Linked DNA regions of Homo sapiens. The protein of the gene in region 3 purifies or fractionates together with the protein of the main gene of each other region. This does not show direct contact. Each region holds a gene or a part of one and is shown on either strand. Other genes may lie near its edges. The genes, in order: CHLSN, RAPGEF1, MINK1, RCC2, GALNT13, RIOK2 and ALKBH5.

Region 1 (2,871 bases), on a different chromosome or scaffold from region 3:
CTCACCCGCAGGACTCCACTCACCCGCAGGACTCCACTCACCCACAGGACTCCCCACCCACAGGACTCCCCACCTGCAGGACTCCACTCACCCACAGGACTCCACTCACCCACAGGGCTCCACTCACCCACAGGACTTCCCACCCACAGGACTCCACTCACCCAGAGGACTCCCCACCCACAGGACTCCCCACCCGCAGGACTCCACTAACCCACAGGACTCCCCACCCACAGGACTCCACTCACCCACAGGACTCCCCACCCACAGGACTCCACTCACCCACAGGACTCCACTCACCCACAGGACTCCCCACCCGCAGGACTCCCCACCCGCAGGACTCCCCACCCACAGGACTCCACTCACCCACAGGACTCCCCACCCACAGGACTCCACTCACCCACAGGACTCCCCACCCACAGGGCTCCACACCCACAGGACTCCCTACCCACAGGACTCCCCACCCACAGGACTCCACTCACCCGCAGGACTCCACTCACCCACAGGACTCCCCACCCACAGGACTCCACTAACCCACAGGACTCCCCACCCGCAGGACTCCCCACCCGCAGGACTCCACTCACCCACAGGACTCCACTCACCCACAGGACTCCCCACCCGCAGGACTCCCCACCGGCAGGACCCCCCACCCGCAGGACTCCACTCACCCACAGGACTCCCCACCCACAGGGCTCCACTCACCCACAGGACTCCCCACCCACAGGATTCCACTCACCCACAGGACTCCACTCACCCGCAGGACTCCACTCACCCACAGGACTCCCCACCCACAGGACTCCACTCACCCACAGGAATCCCCACCCACAGGACTCCACTCACCCACAGGACTCCCCACCCACAGGACTCCACTCACCCACAGGACTCCCCACCCACAGGGCTCCACACCCACAGGACTCCACTCACCCACATGGCAGTGGGGTCAGGCAAGCTGGGCAGCGCTCACAACAGGCACAGGGCCCTCCCCCGTGCTGAGCCTACAGTCTTCAGACCTGGGCTTGCACACTGATGGAGGCTTCTGGGCTCGGCTGCCCTGCCTGGCCCTGGAAACACGTATCTGGGAGGAGGTCTCTGGAGTAAACCCTGCCTGGCCCTGCCCTACCCACAGCGCCAGCTTCGCTCCATCCGCAGCTGCCTGATGTCCACAGGCCCTAGTGCAGGAGCGGGACGGGGGCGGGGTGGTTGTGGCCCTGGGGAGCGGCCCCTCTAGCAGCCGGGAGCTGCTCGTCCCCAGGCCCACTGGCCCCTTGTTGTGAGGGCCTGGGACTCAGGGTATTGTTCCTTACAGTCTTCCCATTTTCATGTAGAAAATACATCATCAATTACATCGCTCCCTTTCCTCCCAGAGAAACTCACTTCATCCTTCCCCCCCTGTAAAATCCGTGTGACCCATGGGGTGGGGGAGCCCACGGGGACTTGGGGTCAGTGGTGAGCCCCGGGGTGGCCAAGGTAAGAGTGGCGTCCACATGCTTCCTGGTCAGGCGGCAGCAGGGCGTGGGGTTGCGGCTCCTCGCCTCGGGCAGGGGAGGGGCTCCAAAAACCCTCTTCACATGAGGCCTTGGTGTGTAGTACCTGGTGGGGCTCCCTCTCCTAAGATGAGGCGTCCCCGATCTCTCAGGGCAGACAGCTGCCCGGGAGTCTTTTGCCCAGCACCCTGAGATGTTTGTCTTTCTTTCCCTAGATGGGCCCAAAAGCACAAGAACTGGAGGTTTCAGAAGACGAGGCAGACGTGGCTCCTGCTGCACATGTATGACAGTGACAAGGTGTGTGCACGGCGGGGCAGGCACGTCTCCTGGGGGCTGAGGTCTGTGCACGGCGGGGCAGGCACGTCCCCCCGGGGGCTGAGGTGTGTGCACGGCGGGGCAGGCACGTCTCCCGGGGGCTGAGGTGTGTGCACGGCGGGGCAGGCACGTCTCCCGGGGGCTGAGGTCTGTGCACGGCGGGGCAGGCACGTCTCCTGGGGGCTGAGGTCTGTGCACGGCGGGGCAGGCACGTCTCCTGTGCACACTGGGGCCCTGACAGCAGAAGCCACAGTCTGAAGGGGCCGCCCTCAGGGCCCCACTGCAGGGCAGGTCTCCCGGTGCCTTTGTTCTAAGAGATGAGCAGCGTTGCCTCCTCCAGGAGCCCTGCCGCCGGCCTTCAGGGCAGAAACCAACACGGGGTAACCTTAGGGAGGCCACCTGCACGTGTGCGTGTGACGTGTGTCTACACGTGCGTGTGTGCATGACGTGTGTCTACACGTGTGTGCGCGTGATGTGTGTCTACACATGTACGTGTGGGCAGCTGCCCTTTTCAGGGGCAGGATGTGAGATAGAGTTTCACAGGATGAAACGAGACAGAATTCTGAACTAAACCCGGCTGCTGGGCGGCGGGCTGGAGCTGCCCATGTCCTGTGAGGCTGGAGGAGCCCACGGTTCTGCTGAGCTGCATCCGGTGGGCAGTGCCTCCTGCCTCGCTGGCTCTCCTGCGCCCACGTTACTAGAGGCCAGGCTTTGCGTGCGCGCTGGGGGCAGGGGGCGGTTTTCTCCTGCCGTGCCTGTGTTTGCAGACTCTCAGAGCGGGGCAGGCCCACCAGCCCCACTCACAGCCCTGGGACATTCCAGGCATAGCCTGCAGCCACTTGCTTTCATTATTTTGTTGTTTTTGTTTTTTTGTGGGCGTTTTTTGAGACAGGGCCCCGCCCAGGCTGGAGTGCAGTGACACGACCACAGTTCACTGCAGCCTCGACCTCCTGGGCTCAAGCCACTCTCCCTCCTCAGAGTTAGAGGACATACACATTGCAAGCCCTATTGCAAGCCGATTGTAAGCCCTATTGCAAGCTCCGGTAATCGCGACACTGGGGCAGGCACAAGGGTG
Region 2 (3,401 bases), on a different chromosome or scaffold from region 3:
ACTGACTGCTCCCCATCCCCTGCACCAGGCACTATGACATGCGGAGGAACGACGACATTATAAACTTCTTCAATGACTTCAGTGACCACCTGGCTGAGGAGGCCCTATGGGAACTGTCTCTGAAAATTAAACCCAGGAACATAACAAGGAGAAAAACAGACCGGGAAGAGAAGACCTAGGAGCAGACGCCGGGATCCAGGAGAATGCTCGAGGGGCGCAGAGGGCAGCTCCCAGACCGGAGAGGACCTTGGACCTGTTAGGCGCATGGCAGGAGTCCCGGCCTCGGAGCCATGAGGCTGGCCAGCCCTCAGCGGGGCCGGGCGGGAGCTGGAGCCTGCCAGCCGCTTCCTGCCTCCTTCCTCTGTGGGAGCAGACCCGTGGGCCTCAGGGCAGCCAGCAGGCAGGTCTTGTTGCCAATTTACAAACCGGTGGTTTTCTGGTTTGGTTTTGTTTTCTGCTTTTACTTCCATCTCTCCCCTCTTGACCTTCCACCCACTCCCCTCCAGGGAGAGAGCAGCAGAGACCTCATCAGCAGACCAAGGAAGTGGTGGGTGCTCCCCCTCCCTAAGCTCCAGGGTCCCTGAATCTTCTGAAATCTCAAATGAGTGGAGGCCTCCTGGGGTGGCCTGTCCTGCAGGGGCCCTGGAATGGGGGCAAGCAGCTGGGTGGGCAGAATGCAGAGTAGACTCGGGGGAGGATCCTTTCACTTTCCGCTTCCCCTTCTGATGCATGGAGGATGGTGTGAGCTTTTCAGCAGGCCCGGAAAGGTACGCAGGTGACGCCTTAGCAGCCCCGCAGCTGGTGCTCTGCCCCGCGGTACTGGCGCCATCAGGGCCTCCCTTGCCCGCCTGAGAGCAGCAGCAGTCTCTGTCATCCCGTCGCCCCTTACCCCCCACCCCAGGCCACTGGGCCCCTCCCACACCACCTGGGGAGCTGAGAAGAGGAGGCTGGAGTAAGGGAGGACTTGATCATCCAAGAAATACTTTTTATTGCTGGGAGTCTTCTGAACCTCACCAAACTGAGGCCAGAGCTGAGCTCCTGGGGGAGTTAATTCAGAGGGGAGAGGCCAGCACCTCCCTCCTCCATCGCTCGCTGTGTGCCTTAAACTCCATCTCATGTCCCTCCCCATCCCCTGGCTTTCCCTCCCTCCTTGCCCCATCCTGGGCCAGCCAGCAGGGCTCCTCCTCTGGCTCTTCAGACCTTTCAGCCAGTGCTGTCAGTGCCCCTGGGAGGGAAGGGCATCCCTGAGGCACCCGAATGGTCCCTCAGGGTGCAGGGAGGCAGAAGCCTGGCCACAGAGGAGCCTCCTAAGGCAGCAGCTGCAGCAAGCGCACCCTCTCCCCACTCTCCCCACGCCAGAGCGGCTTCCAGAGCAGATGCTGTTTCCATCCTCCTCGTCAAAACCATTCTCGCTGCTGAGCTTGACAATCTGGGCAAGGCTTGTGGGGCGCTTGACAAACAGAATCTGCCCTGTGCCGCCTGGTTCCGTGGCCTCCAGCATGAGCCTGCAGGCAGGGCGCTGCGGGAACCCAGTTGTGCTGCCCCAGCCCATGCCTCCGGGTCTGCTGTGCATGAATGAGTGCTCACTTGTCCCGGGTTTAGGACGTGGTCAAGTGAACAGCAGGGTCTAACTGTGCTTACTTAGCCCAGTTCAAACAGAACAAAGGAAAAATATAGAAAGCAACATCTGTTGATCATTTAGGTTTTTTTTTAAACCACCATGTCACTTTGAGTCCTTCATGGGTTTTTGAACAGCATTTATCAAGAAGAAAATGTGGGCTTTTTCCCCTCTCCCGTGTTTTGTTTGTCCTGTAGATAGAGGGAGGAAAGCCGTGCAGTGGCAGGCGGGACCCCCTCTGGTGGCGGGACCCCCTCTTGCGGTGGTCTTGCGGGGCCAGCCGGGACCTGTCACTTTATTATTTAAGGAGTGTGTGTGTAGAGTCGCTGGCTTATTAACAGTATTGTGTGTGGGTTGGGTTTTTAGTTTGTTCCTTCTTTTTGAAGTCCCTTCATTTCAATCCTTGACTCTCTCTCCCCTTCCCTTGCCCAGCTCTGTTGAATGCTGCTGTGCGCGTGTGAGGGCCGCTCTGCACACAGGGCCCTTGGGTTGTGTGAACTGAAATTCTCCCTGTATTTGTGAGACTCGCAGGAGTCCCCATCTGTAGCACAGGCAATGCCAGTGCCATGCTGCAGCCTCAGAAACCAGGCCTCTCACTCCAGCAGCAGGCAGAACCGTGTCTGTGGTCGGGTGCTGTCCACAGCTCTGTCTGCCTTGTTCTTGGGCTTGAGCTGGATAGAGGTGGGGTCTCTTCACCTTCCCTGAATTCAGAACAGACCCTGTGCCTGGCCCCAGTGTGCCCAGGCAATTCCCCAGGCCCTCACTGGGAGCCCTTGGTGTTCTGAGCAGCAGGGCCCAGGCAGCACATGAGCAGTGCCCAGGGGCTCCCTGCGTGAGGACGGCAAGGTGCGATGTATGTCTAACTTATTGATGGCAGGCAGCCCCCTGTGCCCCCTAAGCCTGGCCCTGGTTATTGCTGAGCTCTGTGCTCAGTGCTGCGGCCTGGCCGTGGCTCGTCTGTTCCTTTGGGGGGCCCGGGCGGGTTGTGGGAATCAGTCTTCACAGACAGACGTGAGCCAGGCGGAGGACTCGTTCCTTGCAGAGGTCAGTCCTCACCTGCAGGTGTCGGGGTGTGGGGGGGCAAGGAGGGGCAGGCACACACCATGTCTGACCTGAACCCGATTCTGGGGAGCATCTTCCCGCTCCGGCCCCACGACCTCCACAGGGTTACATTGTAATATATATGCCCCAGCTAACCTGTCTGATGGTGGCATCTTCCTGCAGACATTTCAAACATGTAACTTTTATATGAAAAAAAATAAACACAGATGAAAGCTGCCCAATGCCATGTCCGCGCCCAGCTGCATGTGTGCAACTACAGTGACAGCCCAGCCTGCTCCATGCTGGCCTTGCCATCTCTTTTCTGAGACCCCTGTCGCAGGCGGGGCTCCTGGGAGGCTGGGGTCATTCAGCTCCACTCCCAGGCCCACTTGCTGCCATTGGGGTAGTCGTGGCTGAGTGAAATGGACGTCACCAGAACTTTCCCTCCTAGGCCTTGTGCCCTAGAAGCATTCAACTGGACAAAGAATTGCTCGTGCTCCAGAGGTCGGTTCATGCACAAGAGCCCCTCACCCCAGTGTCCTGATGAAAAGGGCATTCCTCGGGTGGGATTCGGGGGCACAGGCTCTAGAATTGCTCCTTCGGGGCCCGGAAGCACTGTCTTTATGGCGTGCCTTTTGCGGTGTGTCCTCTGCCGCCCAGGAGGCAGCACACAGAGGCTCGGGCCCAGCCCCAGTGAAGAACAGCAGAGCCTCTGCACTTACAAGGGACAGAGTGAGGAGGC
Region 3 (3,111 bases):
CCAGCCCCATCACCTCAGCGCCCCCCCGCCGCCCCCTCGGCACCCCTGTGCTCCCTTCACAGACCTCGCAGCAACTCCGCCTGGCAAATCTATCTGCAAAGGCGGGCAGAGCGGGGCACCCCAAAGCCTCCAGGGCCCCCTGCTCAGCCCCCTGGCCCGCCCAACGCCTCTAGGTAATAGAGTTGTCCCCCAACTCACTCTCACCTCTCACTTCTGCCACCCGCTTCCCTGGTGATGGCTCCCTCTGCAGTGCAGCTCAGCACCCCAGAGAAGGGAGCACCGTGCCTCCCTGACCCTGACTCTGCCCCCCCAACAGTAACCCCGACCTCAGGAGGAGCGACCCTGGCTGGGAACGCTCGGACAGCGTCCTTCCAGCCTCTCACGGGCACCTCCCCCAGGCTGGCTCACTGGAGCGGAACCGCGTGGGAGGTATGTGAGCCAGGGCTGGGCAGCCTGCTCTGGGCCTGGGGGCTTATCACCATGGACCCTGCCTTTGGTGGCTTTGGACTGGGGCACCCACACGGACAGGGAGGACCTGTGTGGGTATGGAACTTGGGGCTGAGTTCTGGGGCTCAGGGTGTGGGCTTGAGGCCATCCCTTGTTCAGGCATCAGTGACCTTCTTCCACCCTGCCGTCCAGTCTCCTCCAAACCGGACAGCTCCCCTGTGCTCTCCCCTGGGAATAAAGCCAAGCCCGACGACCACCGCTCACGGCCAGGCCGGCCCGCAGTGAGTCACCTGGTGGCAGGCATGGCCTGCCTCATCCTGGTTTGGGGCTTAGCCTCAGGGTGCTGGGTGTCAGGGGTGGGGTCTCCGCTGATCTACCGAGAAGGGCTGTGGGGATGGAGGGACTGGTGCTTCTCATGGTGCTAACCTTTCCTAACCTCTCTCCTAACCTCTCTCCTAACCTCTCTTCTGGCTCTTTCTTCCCCTGCGGCCCCTCCCAGAGCTATAAGCGAGCAATTGGTGAGGTTAGTGAGATGGGCCTGCTTGTGGGAGCCCCTCCTGTCGCCCTGCTGGGGTGTCCCGGCACCCTTTGTCTACCTCCACCCAGGCCCAGCTTCTCCCTGCCCCTCACGTGGCTCCTCCCTGCAGGACTTTGTGTTGCTGAAAGAGCGGACTCTGGACGAGGCCCCTCGGCCTCCCAAGAAGGCCATGGACTACTCGTCGTCCAGCGAGGAGGTGGAAAGCAGTGAGGACGACGAGGAGGAAGGCGAAGGCGGGCCAGCAGAGGGGAGCAGAGATACCCCTGGGGGCCGGTACGGCATCGGGAGTGGGGCCCTCCCACTCCAAGGCACAGGGAGGGAGGGGAAGTGGCAGTGGGGAAGAGGTGGGGCTTTGGGGCAAGTCTGAGGGAGAGCGGCTCCCTTCTCTAGAGAGTGGGGTGAGGGTGCAGGTTCCTGTCTCTCTCCCGCTGCCCTGTGTGTTGTGGGGTGGCCTCTTCAAGTGCCTGTCTGCCCCTGTGCCAGCCTGCCCTGTGTGCCATGCAGGGAAGCACCTCACGGTGGAGCAGGGGCTACACCGTGAGGGTGGAGCAGGTTGTGTTTTGAATAGAGACAAAAGCCTGGGCTCTGGCTGCCATCTGCTGCCTTTGGCACTTCTGTGGCCACGGGCAGGACCTGGAGGGGCCCCACCTTCCTCTCTCACAGCAGCGATGGGGATACAGACAGCGTCAGCACCATGGTGGTCCACGACGTCGAGGAGATCACCGGGACCCAGCCCCCATACGGGGGCGGCACCATGGTGGTCCAGCGCGTGAGTGAGCCTCTGCTCCCTCCCCTGTACCTGTGTGTGCCCTCCTCAGCCCCACGCCAACCCTGCCCTCTGTCCTGTAGACCCCTGAAGAGGAGCGGAACCTGCTGCATGCTGACAGCAATGGGTACACAAACCTGCCTGACGTGGTCCAGCCCAGCCACTCACCCACCGAGAACAGCAAAGGCCAAAGCCCACCCTCGAAGGATGGGAGTGGTGACGTAAGTGGGCCGGAGGCAGGTCCGCCGGGAGAGAAGAGCCCTGGCGATGGGCAGGAGGTCCCGGTGCTGGGTAACGGCAGAGGATGGGGCGGAGCGCTGGGAGCTGGACAGCGGGGGTGCCAGTTGGGGAGCTGGAGCCTGGGGAACAGCAGCAGGGGCAGGGCCGCAGCTGGACTTGCACTTGTTTGCCTGACTGCTGTCCCCCTACCACAGTACCAGTCTCGTGGGCTGGTAAAGGCCCCTGGCAAGAGCTCGTTCACGATGTTTGTGGATCTAGGGATCTACCAGCCTGGAGGCAGTGGGGACAGCATCCCCATCACAGGTGAGGACAGGAGGACAGACCTGCTGTGAGGCCAGGGTCCAGGGGCAGCCTGGAGGGGAGCACAGTGGTCTTGAGACGCAGCCTCACAAAGCATAGCCACAGGACCTCTCCCTTGGGCCCTAGCACCTGCCTGGGCACAGAGGCAAGGAAGAGCCTCTGAGACCCCTCCTTCCTGTCCCACAGGACAGGAAATGCTCAGAGTTGCCAGGGGACCTGGGCAAAGACTCAAAGCTAACAAGTGACAGAAATGGGACTTGAGCCAGACCTTTTGACTCCAAGTCCAGCACTCTATCCCCCTCTCCCATGCACCTCCTCTCCTCCTGTCTTTCTCCTCCTTTCTGCGTATTATGAGGTGCCAAGACCTGATATAGGGGATGGAGGTAAAAAGAGATGGGGTGAGAAGCTGCAGCCCCTCCTCCCACCTCCTCCTCCTTCTGGCAGCCCTAGTGGGTGGAGAGGGCACTCGGCTCGACCAGCTGCAGTACGACGTGAGGAAGGGTTCTGTGGTCAACGTGAATCCCACCAACACCCGGGCCCACAGTGAGACCCCTGAGATCCGGAAGTACAAGAAGCGATTCAACTCCGAGATCCTCTGTGCAGCCCTTTGGGGTAAGCCAGGGCAGGGACAGCTGAGGAGGCTCTGGCGTGGCTCTTGTGCTCCTGGTTAGGTGAGGGCCTGGCTGAGCCTCTGACCTGCCCAAGGGCTCCTGTTGCAGGGGTCAACCTGCTGGTGGGCACGGAGAACGGGCTGATGTTGCTGGACCGAAGTGGGCAGGGCAAGGTGTATGGACTCATTGGGCGGCGACGCTTCCAGCAG
Region 4 (3,500 bases), on a different chromosome or scaffold from region 3:
AATGCAGTGGTGGGATCTCAACTCACTGCAACCTCTGTCTTCCTGTTTCAAGCTATTCTCCTGCCTCAGCCTCCTGAGTAGCTGGGATTAGAGGCACCTGCCACCATTCCTGGCTAATTTTGTATTTTTAGTAGAGATGGGGTTTCACCATGTTGGCCAGGCTGGTCTCAAACTCCTGACCTCGTGATCCACCTGCCTCGGCCTCCCAAAGTGCTGGGATTATAGGTGTGAGCCACCGCGCCCGGCTGTTAGTGTATCTTTTAATTTTAATGGCCTTCCTGTGGTTCTTCTGTCTGAGAATGCCTAGGAGTCTCTTTGTTCTATGCTTTGTTGAAAAAGCCTGGGCTAGGATTCCAGAGATCAAGTTGGTCCTCCCCACTGAGTGGTCTCAGCTCACCACCTCCTTCCCTTGGAATCTTCTTGCCGATGAAGAATGCCCAGGGAATTGGGCTAGGACTAGGGTAGGAGATTTCAGTTTGTGCAAGTCCAAAAACTGATTTGTTTTGTCTGATGTAGTCAGGGGAAATAAAGTTGGCTCTTGTTTAGGGCCTTATAGGCCAAGTTTTTTAGTAAGTTGTAGATTCCCATGGTTTAGACATGAAACATCAAAGAACTGAATTGGCATGTCAGAAGATGGGAAAACGAGACTGAAGAAGATAAATCTTAAACACTTGAAGTGTCTCTGAGTTCATTTCATCAGTGACCAGGTACAGGTTACCTCTGTACCTGTGGGTGAGGGAAGTCTAAAGAAAAATCCAGGCCGGGCGCAGTGGTTCATGTTTGTAATCAGAGGACTTTGGGAGGCCAAGGTGGGCAGATCATTTGAGACCAGCCTGAGCAACATGGTGAGACCCCCATCTCTACAAAAAAACCACAAAAATCAGCTGGGCATGGTGGTGCACACCCAAGTCCTAGCGACTTGGGAGGCTGAGGTAGGAGAATCGCTTGAGCCCAGGAGGTGGAGGTTGTGGTGAGCCGTGATCGTGCCATTGCATTCCAGCCTAGGTAACAGAGCACGAGACCCTCTCGAGGGGGGGAAAAGAAACGAAAAATCCAGGAACAGGTAGGCCTTTTCTGTTCTTTCTGCAATTGAATCTGTTTTTTTTTTGTTGTGTTTTTTTTTTTGTTTCGTTTTGTTTTTTTTTTTTGAGATGGAGTCTCATTCCGTCACCCAGGCTGGAGTGCAGTGACGCTATCTCGGCTCACTGCAGCCTCCGCCTCCCAGGTTCAAGAGATTCTCCTGTCTCAGCCTCCTGAGTAGCTGGGATTACAGGTGCACACCACTGTGCCCAGCTAATTTTTTTGTATTTTAGTAGAGATGGGTTTCACCATGTTGCCCAGGCTGGTCTTGAATTCCTGAGTTCAGGCAATCCACCTGCCTCAGCCTCCCAACGTGCTAGGATTACAGGCATGAGCCACTGCATCTGGCCGAATCTCTGTTGTAGTGGGAATCAAATGATTGCCCAACTCTCAGGAGACATAGCCCTGTTGCTTCTGATTAAGGAAAGGGTTAAGACTTGTAACTTAAATAAATAAACAGAACAAAAAAGGATTGGAAAATGGAGTCCCTGGCAGAGAAAATAGCAAACTGGGCTTATTGAATGCATGCCATTTTGCTACACTTGCTCCTGTTGCCTCCTCCCCCACTGCTGGAGGCGGGAGGTAGAGGATCTTTCTGCTGGAGGCAGGCAAAGGATATTTCTTTGGTTTTTGGAGACAGGGTTTCACCATGTTGGCCAGGCTGGTCTCAAACTCCTGACCTCAAGTGATCCACCCACCTTGGCCTCCCAAAGTGTTGGGATTAGATGTGAACCACCGTGCCCGGCTGGTAGGGGATCTTGAATGTTGCTGTTCCTTTGCCCTTAGCATTTGCACCAGGTTGTCTGCACAGAAACGATGACCCCTCTTGTTGCCTGTTGGAAGTCTGTTTGTTCCAACCCTGTGTTTTCTTTCCTTGCAGCTGGTCCTGGACTCCCAGAAGCGAGTCTTCTCCTGGGGCTTTGGTGGCTATGGCCGGCTGGGCCACGCAGAGCAGAAGGATGAGATGGTCCCCCGCCTGGTGAAGCTGTTTGACTTCCCTGGGCGTGGGGCTTCCCAGATCTATGCTGGTTACACCTGCTCCTTTGCTGTCAGTGAAGTGGGTTAGTGATTTCTGCCCCCTGGCTTATCAGTGCTCTGGTGCGGAACCGTGTAGCCATTGTCCTGTCCCTAGACCACGAACCCCAATTCTCTTTACCTCCCAGTGTTCTTTATTTTTTTGAGACAGGAACTCGTTGTGTTGTCCAGGCCGGTGTCGAACTCCTGGGCTCAAGCAGTCCTACCACCACAGCGTCCTGAGTAGCTAGGACTGCACAGGCACGCCACCACGCCTGGCTCCAGTTATCTTTTAGACAGAACACTTGTTTGCCATCCCGTCCTCTTTTCACCCTGATAATACTGAAGATGAGACTCAGCTCTCGATGTCTGGTCACGCTGGGAACATGTTTTGTCTTCCCTTAGGTGGTCTGTTTTTCTGGGGGGCCACCAACACCTCCCGTGAATCTACCATGTACCCAAAAGCAGTGCAGGACCTCTGCGGCTGGAGAATCCGGAGCCTGGCTTGTGGGTAGGTGGCAGCATCTCCTGTGGGTATGAGGTCTCTTCCTTTCATGGGGGTGTCAGACACACCCATGGGGTGCCCCTCCCTGATGGGGCTCTGTTTCTGCTGCCTGTTGGGCTGTCCTCAGCAGGCCATCTGACACACTGAATCCCAGAGTCCGGGGGTACAGGAGGGGAGAGGGCCCATTTGCTGCTAGAACAGATGGCTGTTCCCTGTCTTGTGGGAAGAAAGTCATTTTGAAGGTTTCTGTTCAAAGAAATAAACAAGCAGAGCTTGATGTATTCCTACGCTGCAGGTTGAAAATTATACGTAGTTGGAAACGTAGCAGGACTTGAGTTGCTGTGACACTGGGAAGACGACATTGTCTTGGCAGCAGTGGTTTGTAGTTCATTTCAGGACACCTGTTGAGTTAGCTAGCACTTCTTGCTGAGGAGTTGGATTTATCAGCTGGCAGGTGTGGGTGGAACAGTATGAGGGGCCTCTGTCGGCGTGGCTTTAATCTGTTGAAGGCTCTAGCCCTGCCCAAATCATTATGCATGAAGGCTGCTCCCTCTGGAACAGGCTTTCACTTTATCCTGATCTGGTCTCCTCTTCCCAAAGCGACCTCCCACTGAGAGAGAGCTGTGCAGGATGCACAGCAAGGTCCCCTGCCTTTGGCCCCTAGGCCTGTCTAAGGGCTTTGTTGTTTTGTTGAAGCGTTGAGTGGCCTGCACGGAACAATCTTAGGATTGAGGAGAAACCTGTTGGCCCTGTTATTGTGTTTGCTACTTGGAATGAGTACGCCAAGGGAAAAGTGGCAGCTCACACTCATGCCCTTGAGCCATAGCTGCGTGGGTGCAGGTCTGGGGCTGCTGGCCCTGCAGTGACAGCCTGCCTGTTTGCAGGAAGAGCAGCATCATTG
Region 5 (3,500 bases), on a different chromosome or scaffold from region 3:
CATATTCATGACTTGATGACATAATGCTTATAGCTTATTCCATTCTCTTCCTAGTTTCAAATAAAATTTGGACCTAGGAAAGATGCTAGCACTTGCTTTAGCCTTAGTTTACTGTGTTAATGTTTGTTGAAATGATTGGAAGATTAGGGATGACTTGTTCCTTCTTGGTAGTTAACTGCCATTTACTGACACTAAGATGGTGCCACTCTGTGTCCTGGGATTGGAAATGAATATTGGGCAATGACAAAAAGAGCTTGTCAGAACTAATTTCTCCATCTTCCCTCCAAAAAACACATCCCAACTTGTACGGGTCAGTTTGCTCCATTTTTACTTCTTTGCCTTGGCGAAAGTGAAGCAGGTTTGGTTAGTGCTCTTGTAAAACTGGTGGTTGGTTTTACATCCCAGGTTGCTTTAGATAGTGTCTATTTGGGCCATCAAAGAGGAAAAGAATACTGGTGGAGTGTGTGAAATGTGGCTAAATTGACCTAAGACATTAGTTTCATTTCTACCAAAGCAGGTTGTAAATCCAAATTACCTTGAGTTTATTTATTCATTGTAGTTACAGGTGTTCAGGTCCCACTGATACAGAGTCTCATTTAACTGGGATGGATCCACAGAATCTACCTTTATGCACATTTTCCTATGTGATTCTGAGGTGCAGTGACATTTCAAGCAACTAATCTGCTTGTAGTATATCACTTAACAGATTTATTTAACAAAACACAGCAATTACTATGCCCCAGAGTTGTTCTAAGTGCTTTGCAGATATTGATTCATTTAATCATAAAGACCTTCAAAAGTAGATTTTATTAGTATTCTTATTTTAGAGACAAGGAAAGTGAGTCACAGAAAGGTTAAGTAAGTTGGCCAGTGTAAGAAGATCAGTGGAAGGGCAAGGATGATGTTAATTTTGATAAAATAATTAAAACTACCTACGTGTGTGTGTGTGTGTGTGTGTGTGCATGTGTGTGTGTGTTCTGAGACAGAGTCTGCCTCTGTTACCCATGCTGGAGTGCAGTGGTGCAATTATAGTTCACTGTAGCCTTAAACCCCTTGGCGCAGCCTCCCAAGTAACTAGGACTACAGGCATGTGCTGCCATGTCAGGCTAATTTTTAATTTTTTTTTTTTTTGGTAGAGACAGAGTCTCACTATGTTGCCCAGGCTGGTCTTAAACTCCTGGCCTCAAGTAGTCCTCCCGCCTCAGCCTCCCAATGTACTGGGATTACAGGCATGAGCCACTGATCCTGGCCGTGCTTTGAGCCACAAAACTTGAAGTAGCAGAATTGAAAACAGAACACAGATTTCTATGTCTTTTCCCTATTTGAGTAAGTTTTGCCTTTGAAAGTGAAGGAAGAAAAGCTGATATTTCTCGAGTTGGAAAATTTTTAAAAAGTTTATATTTTAGAAGTTGTTGCACCAGATAAATAAATATAATTATGAATGGGATAGTAAACATGGAAAAATCAGAGTGGTTTTCCTCAAGTAGTGTCATCATTGACTTGGCCTCTAATTAGACCAAAACAATATTAATAATCAGTAATACATAATGTTGCAGACAAGAATATTTTTAAAAGATTTGGAAAATAAACAGCTGTTTGTTTCAATCCATAACAAAATAACCATATATACTTCAAATACGTAACTAAGATTTACATCTTTATACTAAATAAGAAACAATTTATTTTCCTGTAATGCTCCTCATAAGATCTTTAAGTTACATTAGGAAATATTCATATTTATGGAAGGATTGGGGAAATTCTACCTAAATTTATGGATTTTTTCTCAATAATTTTTGTAAGCTTTGTATAAGATGGAATATTTGTAATTTATAATCACTTGTGAAAACTGATGTATTGATCTTTAACAAAGTACATTTTCTCCTTTCTGTTATTTAATATTTTTGTTTAATACACTAAAATAATCTTGTAAAATGGCTTTTCTTTGGTGTTTTTTAAAATGAATTTTATTTTAGACCGATGTTTGATTAAATTATGTAAATTATTTGAATTCTAAACCCCCAATAATGAGTCATTCCACTTGTGTGGTTTAAAAAAGAGTTAAAAATCGGCATTTAGAAACAATGTGATTTCCAATTCAGTAAATGATTTAAGGGTTTATGGGGTTACTGACTATTCTACTTTCAAGACTCACTACCATCTTTTCTCTTTTTCTTATAGCAAATTTCACCAGGATTCCTGAGACTTATATTTCTTCGATTCTCTTGATCATTCAGTCTCAAATAGGATTATATATCACTTGTCCTGAAAAATATTAGAAACAGTCTGTCACTGAATATGGTGCAGATTTTATTCATATGTTATAGATTTTAAGCATACCTTTTGATTTTTTTCTTAAGGTAAATACTGTATTTATTATTTTTTAGTATTCTTTTTCTTTGCTCCATATCTTGTTCTTTGTTCTTCTTTCCATTCTTCTTCATGGTGCTTTTTGCTTTAAATTGTCTCTCTTTTATGACTTAATAAATCTTCATGTAGCCAGACTGAACTATGTATTGGTTTCCTTGATTCTGGTAAAACAAAACAAAACAAAACAAAAAACAAAAAAGGAAATTAAAAAAGGCTGTTCATTTAATCATTTAGTTTCTGAATAGGTAAGAGACACTATAGCTCTTGCATCTAGGTCATTTAACAGGTGGAAGGGGATGCTAAATTTGCATCTCATTACCTTTGTCTACTTTTAGAGTTGTGTGCTTGGGCCCTGTGGTCAGTTGGCAGGTGGCAGGCCATGGCTCCAAAGGAATGCCGTGTTATTTGAGGGGATGCCAATTTCACTTGCCACACGGTTCTCACATTACTTGGTCAGACTTTTTAAAAATAAAACAACCAATATATGGTTCATTATTTATGCTAGATTACTGACTTCACATCAAAAATCATTGTGATATTGATAGGCTGTGATAAATAATTTTAACAATTTATATTCTGTGGTACCCACTGTCAGACTTATGGATAGTATTTCCTCTATTTTGGTAACCTAGAGCAGACATTTTGTCAAAAATTTTTAAAAGACTTTTATTGTTGTGCACTAAAGTTGAGATGAATTGTAGGTAATTGGATGGTACAGCTGAATTAACACATTGAATTGCTAGTTATGAGACACTTCATTTGCTGTTGCAGACAACAATAGGCCCATTTTTGCTTCTACAATGCACAAATTCTTATTATCTATATAAAATGCTAATTCAAGTGGGATAACATGTATACATCATTTCCATTCCTTTTGTAAGGAAAACTAACTTCCACAAATGTAAAATATTTGCAAATATCTCAAATAATTTTGAACTTCAATTAATCTTTTTTTGCAAATGTTAATCAGTTTTCTCATTTTCCACAAACAGAACAGGATATAAGGCATTTCAAACATGAAATCAGTAGTATCAATTTTACCCTGTGTCCCTTAAGGTCTGTGCAGATGGGCAATTCACATTTATCTCAACAGAGATCCTTATTTGAATCATTCTGAAGAACATTATTACTAT
Region 6 (3,500 bases), on a different chromosome or scaffold from region 3:
ACTTCTTAACTTCTAATAAACTTAGATGTATACCATTTTTTAAAATTTCCATCATGAGATAAAAATTTCTCAGAGGTAAAAAGCACATATATATATATATATATACATATATATATATATACATATACACATGCAGAAGAGCATGTAGGATAGAGATATATATATATGTGCTTTTTACCTCTGAGGAATAAATTTAAAAATATATATATAATATATATATTATATATATATTATATATATATAATATATATATATTTTATATATATATATTATATATATATATAAAATACTTTTAAGTTCTGGGGTACATGTGCAGAACGTGCAGGTTTGTTACATAGGTATACACATGCTATAGTGGTTTGCTGTACCCATCAACCCATCCCATCTACATTAGGTATTTCTCCTAATGCTATCCCTCCCCTAGCCCCCCACCCCCCGACAGGCCCCAGTGTGTGATGTTCCCCTTTCTGTGTCCACGTATTCTTACTGTTCAACTCCCACTTATGAGTGAGAAAATGTGGTGTTTGGTTTTCTGCTCTTGTGTTAGTTTTCTGAGAATGATGGTTTCCAGCTTCACCCATGTCCCTGCAAAAGGCATGAACTCATCCTTTTTTATGGCTGCATAGTATTCCATGGTGTATATGTGCCACATTTTCTTTATCCAGTCTATCATTCATATATATATATATATCCTCTACGATGCCTACATGTAGTACTTTCTCATTAAATACCTGCTTAATAAATATCTGGCATATCTGTAGTTTTTAAAGACAAATGTTTAGGTGTCATCAAGTATTTTAGCATTGACCAAATGTCATCAGTATGTCTAGCACTCACAGTTCCTACTCTTGAAATGGAAAGCCAATACAAATATCAATGATTAGATTTCAAATTGCAATTAAAAATATTTTCAAGAGACGGAAGTGATTATGTCTCAGAATTAGTTGGAGAACTGCATAGTCAGGAAAGCTTCAAGGAGAAGTTAATTTCGCAGGGTTTTGATAGACAAGGCTTTGTGTTGATTATGATTATATAATGATTCCTTTAATTTCAGGTTGAAATGGGCATGAAGAACCATGAAATTGTTCCCGGCAGTTTGATTGCTTCTATAGCCAGCCTTAAACATGGTGGCTGTAATAAAGTTTTAAGAGAATTAGTGAAACATAAACTCATAGCTTGGGAGCGTACCAAAAGTAAGTATTTTGAGGCACCATTTGTGATTTTTCAGGTAATTGGTTTCCACCAGAGCAAGTGTTCCAAAAGTCAAGAAGTAGAAGTTGCCAGACTAGTAAAGCATTAGACGAAGAACTGACAGAACACACTTCGGCCATATCCTATTAGTCAAAATAATCACAGGGCACACCCAGATCAAAGGAGGTGAAAAAAGAATAGTAGTAAGAACATGTAGGTACTGCAGAAGAGCATGTAGGTACTGCAGAAGAGCACGTAGAGTACTGCAGAAGAGCATGTAGAGTACTGCAGAAGAGCATGTAGAGTACTGCAGAAGAGCACGTAGGTACTGCAGAAGAGCACGTAGGTACTGCAGAAGAGCAGGTAGAGTACTGCAGAAGAGCAGGTAGAGTACTGCAGAAGAGCATGTAGAGTACAGAAGAGCACGTAGGTACTGCAGAAGAGCACATAGAGTACTGCAGAAGAGCATGTAGAGTACAGAAGAGCACGTAGGTACTGCAGAAGAGCACGTAGGTACTGCATAAGAGCAGGTAGAGTACTGCAGAAGAGCAGGTAGAGCACTGCAGAAGAGCATGTAGGTACTGCAGAAGAGCATGTAGGTACTGCAGAAGAGCAAGTAGGTACTGCAGAAAAGCATGTAGGTACTGTAGAAGAGCATGAAGAGCATGTAGGTACTGCAGAAGAGCATGTAGGTACTGTAGAAGAGCATGAAGAGCATGTAGGTACTGCAGAAGAGCATATAGGATAAAGCTATTGTGGCTACCATCTTTGGAAAATACAATCAGTAGTCATACCCTAGATCATTACTTCTGAAACCATCTGTGGTGAAGGATTAGTTTTTTCCAACCTATCACAGATCCTTACTTTTATAAAATACAAAAAAATAATTACTAGAAAAATGAAATGGATAACAGATATACAAAAACAGACATAAATTCTAGGTCAAATTGATATACAAATTGAACTTAAATTCCTCCTTTTATCTTGTCACAAACACTTACAGACCTGTCTGTAGGTCACATTTTGATTATCAGTACACTGGAGAAGAAATGCAAATTATAGGAAGAAATTGGAAGCTTGTGAGCCTGGGCAGTTTATCTTTTTCCAATGAAGACTTTATTGTTAAATCTTTCTTATGACTTGAACTTACGTGACTTGGTTGTACAATGTAACTGAAATATGGTCTTTATGCTTTGATTTTTGTCTAGCTGTCCAGGGCTATCGGTTGACAAATGCAGGATATGATTACCTAGCTTTGAAAACACTTTCTTCTAGGCAAGTAGTTGAGTCTGTTGGAAACCAGATGGGTGTTGGCAAAGAATCAGGTAAGTGCTAATAGTACTGTGCAAAGTATTTTCTTTGCTTTAGTTTATGTTTTCCCTTCAGAAACCTTTCCTCTTTTAATTTTCCCTTTTTTCTAACTAAACAGTAAGTTGGAAAGTTGATTGGAAGCAGTACAAATCAGAAGGTGTCCTTAATTAGTAGGTTATTATTTTCTCTGAACGTCTATCACTGAAAATTCATTTATACCAGGAATTAATTTTCTTCTAATAACTCCCAAGATATATCATTATTTATGTGCAAATATACCAGAATCCAAAATTCAAAACACTTCTGGTCCGAAGGTTTTGGATAAGGAGGGATACTCAATCTTTATTAGGAAAAATGACATTTTTGATACAAATAAAATTAGAGAAAGTTAGAATTGTTTTAACTGATTGGAATAAACGTGTAATAATGGTTGTTTTTGAAATTTTGTCTCTAGATATTTACATTGTTGCAAATGAAGAAGGACAACAATTTGCATTAAAGCTTCACAGACTAGGAAGAACCTCGTTTCGAAATTTGAAAAACAAACGCGATTATCATAAACATAGGCACAATGTGTCATGGCTATATTTATCTCGTCTCTCTGCCATGAAGGAATTTGCCTATATGAAGGTATTTATTTTATTTTGTAGTCATGCATTTTTTAGCCAAATAATACATGTGTCTCAAAGGCCTTAATGACAAGTGTGATTCTGTTGTCCCCACATCTCTCTAACCTTAGACTCAATTCCTACAGACAGACTCAATCTTAAATAACTCTGTTGATTATTTGGGCTCTTTTAAGTGATTTCCTTCTACGTTAAGGTATTTTAAATTGTTACTAATGCATAAGGGCAACACATTCTGTAATGCTGACAAGATGAAAGAGCCAAAAGTAATTAATGATGCTGTTACCTCACAAATATGTATGTGTGGATGTATATATATCTATTCAATATATGTAACTATACATATGTCTGTTTCTAATTGAAAACACCAGG
Region 7 (3,500 bases), about 13 Mb from region 3:
ACAGAATAGATAAGGAGTGGAGGACTTGATACACCGGCCTAAGACAGCAAAAGCTTCACGCTGTGCAGAGAAATGTTAAGCGCGCTGGGGAGCCGTGGAGGCATGTGAGCAGTGGGGTGAGGGATTTGCATGTGAGAGATTGTAGGAAGCGAAGCTCAATAGCTTACTTGGTCATTAGATCCACAGAGTTCGAGGAGTCAGGAGACCTTCCATGAGAGCAGAGCAATCTGAATGTGAGGCTGAGTGGATGGATGAGCAGTGGAAGGAAGTGGAGGTCTCATTCTGGACCTCGTTCCTCAGCAGTGGGGTGAGGGGTGGCTAGCTCTTAGTTTCTCTGACCAGGGCTTGGTGTTGCTCCTTTCTCCATGATTTGTGTCTCCTGTGGTTAGATTTAGCTTACATTTGTTCCCTGGTTCAGTAAGTCTGTGTCCACGTGCATACACCCTGCCCTTTTGGCAGCCTGACTGTTCTGATGTGTCTGTGGCCTGCCCAAGGAATATGGGTACAATGGGATCACCAGGAAGGTGACAAACTTGGGCTTCTGCCCTGGCTCTGCCACTCCTCTCCAAATGCAGTCTTATCTGCACCTGTAAATTGGGCAGTTGTGGTTAAACTTGTGAATGCTAGGTGGTCTTCTAAACTCTTCCTGGCTGGGTGCGGTGGCTCGCACTTGTAATCCCAGCACTTTGGGAAGCCGAGGTGGGCGGATTGCCTGAGCGCGGGAGTTTGAGACCACCCTGGGCAACATGGTGAAACCCCATCTCTACTAAAATACAAAAAATTAGCCGGGCGTGGTAGCATGCATCTGTAGTCCCAGCTACTTGGGAGAATCGCTTGAGCATGGGAGGCAGAGGTTGCAGTGAGCCAAGATTGCACCACTGCACTCCAGCTTGGGCTACAGGGTGAGACTCCATCTTAGATAGATAGATAGATAGATAGATAGATAGATAGATAGATAGGATAGATAAGATAGATAGATAGATAGATAGATAGATAGATAGATAGATAGATGATAGATAGATTGATTGATTGATTTAAAAAACCAGGTGTGGTGGCATATACCTATAGTCCGAGCTACTCGCGAGCCTGAGGCAGGAGGATTGCTTGAGCCCAGGAGGTCAAGGCTGCAGTGAGCTGTAATCCCACCCGTGCACTCCAGGCTGGGTGATAGACCTTGTTTCAAAGAAAGTAATTAATTGGCCGGGTGCGGTGGTTCACGCCTGTAATTCCAGCACTTTGGGAGGCTGAGGCGGGCGGATCGTGAGGTCAGGAGATCGAGACCATCCTGGCTAACACGGTGAAACCCCGTCTCTACTAAAAATACAAAAAAAATCAGCCGGGCATGGTGGCAGGCGCCTGTCGTTGCAGCTACTTGGAGGCTGAGGCAGGAGAATGGCATGAACCCAGGAGGCGGAGGTTGCAGTGAGCCGAGATCGCACCACAGCACCCCAACCTGGGCGACAGAGCGAGACTCCGACTCAAAACAAAAAACAAAAAACAAAAAAAAACAGAAGTCTGATGTTGGCAGGGGGCTGGTGGAAGATGGGTGGGGAGAGTCCCGTGAGGGGAGTGGGTACTACTGCAGGAGAGCCAGCAAGGTACAGACCTGAGCTTTGTGGGAGTCTGATTCTCAAAGGTGCTGGAGCTTAGACCTTAGCTCTAGGGACCCAGGTTACTAAATAGGCAAGAGGGTGCTTGGACAGGCCCACAATACTGGTCTCTGCCTCGCTTTGTTGGAAAGCCAAGCTTTTAGCACAAGGATGCCTGGTAAAGGTGGTGCCAGACGTTGGAGAGTAGTTGGTAGCTGGCTGGGGACTGCCCTCGCTCCAGAGTCATCGTGGCCTGAGTGCGGTCTGGTTTACCATCTTCCCAGAAATGGTGGTGCTGCCACCTGCATGCACAGTGTTCTCTTGCACTGAGGAGGGCCCACCTGCACTTTATTTTTTAATTAAAAAAAAAAAATTAGGGCCGGGCACGATGGCTCACGCCTGTAATTCCAGCACTTCGGGAGGCTGAGGCAGGCGGATCATGAGGTCAAGAGATCAAGACCATCCTGGCCAACATGGTGAAACCCTGTCCCTACTAAAAATACAAAAATTAGCTGGGCATGGTGGCGTGCACCTGTAGTCCCAGCTACTCATGAGGCTGAGGCAGGAGAATTGCCTGAACCTGGGAGGTGGAGGTGCAGTGAACCAAGATCGTGCCACTGCACTCCAGCCTGGAGACAGAGCAAGATTGTCTTTTAAAAAAAAAAAAAAAAAAAAGAGTTTAAATAGGGACAAGGTCTTACTTTGTTGCCCAGGTTGGTCTGAAACTCCTGGCTTTTAAGTAATCCTTCTACCTTGGCCTCCCAAAGTGCTGGGATTACAGGTGTGAGCCACTGTGCCTGGCCCCACCTGTGCTTTAGAGGCCATCACAGAGTAGTAGGTAGTAGCTTTGTGACTCAAGCTAGTGATTTGCTCTGGGATTTAGCTTTGCTCTCCAGTCCCTACAGGGAGAATAATTCACCCCAGCAGCTTCTCTGGAGGACCTAGGATAGGATCAACTCCCTCCCTTCCCTTCGGTTCACACTTTAGTGCTACAGCCATCCTTTGTTGTGACCTCCCTTGTCCCTGCTTTGTCCTGACACGGTAGGTGGCCGCTCTGGGTATCACGGTCAACCTCACATGCCCGAGGTCACATGCCCGAGGTGCTTTGCTCTGACCTTTGAATACTGACTCATCTGTAAGGCAGGTCTTCATTCCTGTTGCCACCTGAGGAGGCCTGGGTCCAGACCTTACTGCTAGAACTGAGCCTCCTGAATCCAGATTTGTGACTCTCTGCTAAACCCTGAGGACCTGGCCTACGCCATGAGAGTTGGTTGCCTTTTAACAGGGGCATGTTCTGAAGTTAAGCTACTGGTGGGCACTGGGCTTGGAGTCAAGCTCTAGCCTGGCATCCTGCAGCTTGGTGAATTTTTGGAAGTGTAGGGAGGGCAGGAGCTTCTCCAGCTGTTATGAGATGTACTTATAACAGTCCCAGGGGATGTGTCAAGAGCTCTCATCTTGGTGGCTCTGCTTTTCTCCTACCATCCATCATTCACCCGAAGAAACAACTCCAGAGTGCCCCCACTAGGGCTTCACTGGGGCTTTTGGGGCACACAGGGGCCTTCCTTCCCTGAACATGGGCTCCCTGGCACCTATAGAGTCTTAGCTTTATGGGTACCAGAGGAGGGACTTTCTTCAATGAGGCCCTTAGAGTCCTTTAAGTCAAGTATAAAGGCTAACATTTTATTTAGTCTGATTTCTGCCACCTGGACCTCTCAACTTGATGACACGAAGCCTGGTAAAGAAAAGGTCATTGGGCCAGGCGTGGTGGCTCACGCCTTTAATTTCAGCACTTTGGGAAGCCAGGACGGGCAGATCACCTGAGGTCGGGAGTTCAAGACCAGCCTGACCAACATGGAGAAACCCCATCTCTACTAAAAATACAAAAGTAGCCAGGCGTTGGGGTGCATGCCT

What was found.
Region 1: the proteins of MINK1 (region 3) and CHLSN purify together in Homo sapiens (affinity purification with mass spectrometry, with the first as the bait; one study listed by BioGRID). This does not show direct contact.
Region 2: the proteins of MINK1 (region 3) and RAPGEF1 purify together in Homo sapiens (affinity purification with mass spectrometry; one large-scale study listed by BioGRID and IntAct). This does not show direct contact.
Region 4: the proteins of MINK1 (region 3) and RCC2 purify together in Homo sapiens (affinity purification with mass spectrometry, with the first as the bait; one study listed by BioGRID). This does not show direct contact.
Region 5: the proteins of MINK1 (region 3) and GALNT13 purify together in Homo sapiens (affinity purification with mass spectrometry; one large-scale study listed by BioGRID and IntAct). This does not show direct contact.
Region 6: the proteins of MINK1 (region 3) and RIOK2 purify together in Homo sapiens (affinity purification with mass spectrometry; one large-scale study listed by BioGRID and IntAct). This does not show direct contact.
Region 7: the proteins of MINK1 (region 3) and ALKBH5 purify together in Homo sapiens (affinity purification with mass spectrometry; one large-scale study listed by BioGRID and IntAct). This does not show direct contact.

The regions. Positions count from the first base shown.
Region 1 is NC_000007.14:999,377-1,002,247, reverse strand, and holds part of CHLSN (protein cholesin), read left to right. Parts: intron 1-1,696; coding exon 1,697-1,778; coding exon of another isoform or gene 1,779-1,782; intron 1,783-2,871. UniProt on the Homo sapiens protein: Hormone secreted from the intestine in response to cholesterol, where it acts to inhibit cholesterol synthesis in the liver and VLDL secretion,leading to a reduction in circulating cholesterol levels. Acts through binding to its receptor, GPR146.
Region 2 is NC_000009.12:131,576,275-131,579,675, reverse strand, and holds the end of RAPGEF1 (rap guanine nucleotide exchange factor 1), read left to right. Parts: intron 1-28; coding exon 29-179; 3' UTR 180-2,901; downstream 2,902-3,401. UniProt on the Homo sapiens protein: Guanine nucleotide-releasing protein that binds to SH3 domain of CRK and GRB2/ASH. Transduces signals from CRK to activate RAS. Involved in cell branching and adhesion mediated by BCAR1-CRK-RAPGEF1 signaling and activation of RAP1.
Region 3 is NC_000017.11:4,892,340-4,895,450, forward strand, and holds part of MINK1 (misshapen-like kinase 1), read left to right. Parts: intron 1-62; coding exon 63-173; intron 174-316; coding exon 317-429; intron 430-639; coding exon 640-728; intron 729-946; coding exon of another isoform or gene 947-970; intron 971-1,094; coding exon 1,095-1,258; intron 1,259-1,648; coding exon 1,649-1,754; intron 1,755-1,834; coding exon 1,835-1,972; intron 1,973-2,185; coding exon 2,186-2,294; intron 2,295-2,735; coding exon 2,736-2,903; intron 2,904-2,996; coding exon of another isoform or gene 2,997-3,010; coding exon 3,011-3,111. UniProt on the Homo sapiens protein: Serine/threonine kinase which acts as a negative regulator of Ras-related Rap2-mediated signal transduction to control neuronal structure and AMPA receptor trafficking.
Region 4 is NC_000001.11:17,412,178-17,415,677, reverse strand, and holds part of RCC2 (protein RCC2), read left to right. Parts: intron 1-1,960; coding exon 1,961-2,141; intron 2,142-2,499; coding exon 2,500-2,605; intron 2,606-3,483; coding exon 3,484-3,500. UniProt on the Homo sapiens protein: Multifunctional protein that may affect its functions by regulating the activity of small GTPases, such as RAC1 and RALA. Required for normal progress through the cell cycle, both during interphase and during mitosis.
Region 5 is NC_000002.12:153,878,422-153,881,921, forward strand, and holds part of GALNT13 (polypeptide N-acetylgalactosaminyltransferase 13), read left to right. Parts: intron 1-3,500. UniProt on the Homo sapiens protein: Catalyzes the initial reaction in O-linked oligosaccharide biosynthesis, the transfer of an N-acetyl-D-galactosamine (GalNAc) residue from UDP-GalNAc to a serine or threonine residue on the protein receptor.
Region 6 is NC_000005.10:97,176,748-97,180,247, reverse strand, and holds part of RIOK2 (serine/threonine-protein kinase RIO2), read left to right. Parts: intron 1-1,054; coding exon 1,055-1,193; intron 1,194-2,399; coding exon 2,400-2,516; intron 2,517-2,956; coding exon 2,957-3,132; intron 3,133-3,500. UniProt on the Homo sapiens protein: Serine/threonine-protein kinase involved in the final steps of cytoplasmic maturation of the 40S ribosomal subunit. Involved in export of the 40S pre-ribosome particles (pre-40S) from the nucleus to the cytoplasm.
Region 7 is NC_000017.11:18,200,828-18,204,327, forward strand, and holds part of ALKBH5 (RNA demethylase ALKBH5), read left to right. Parts: intron 1-3,500.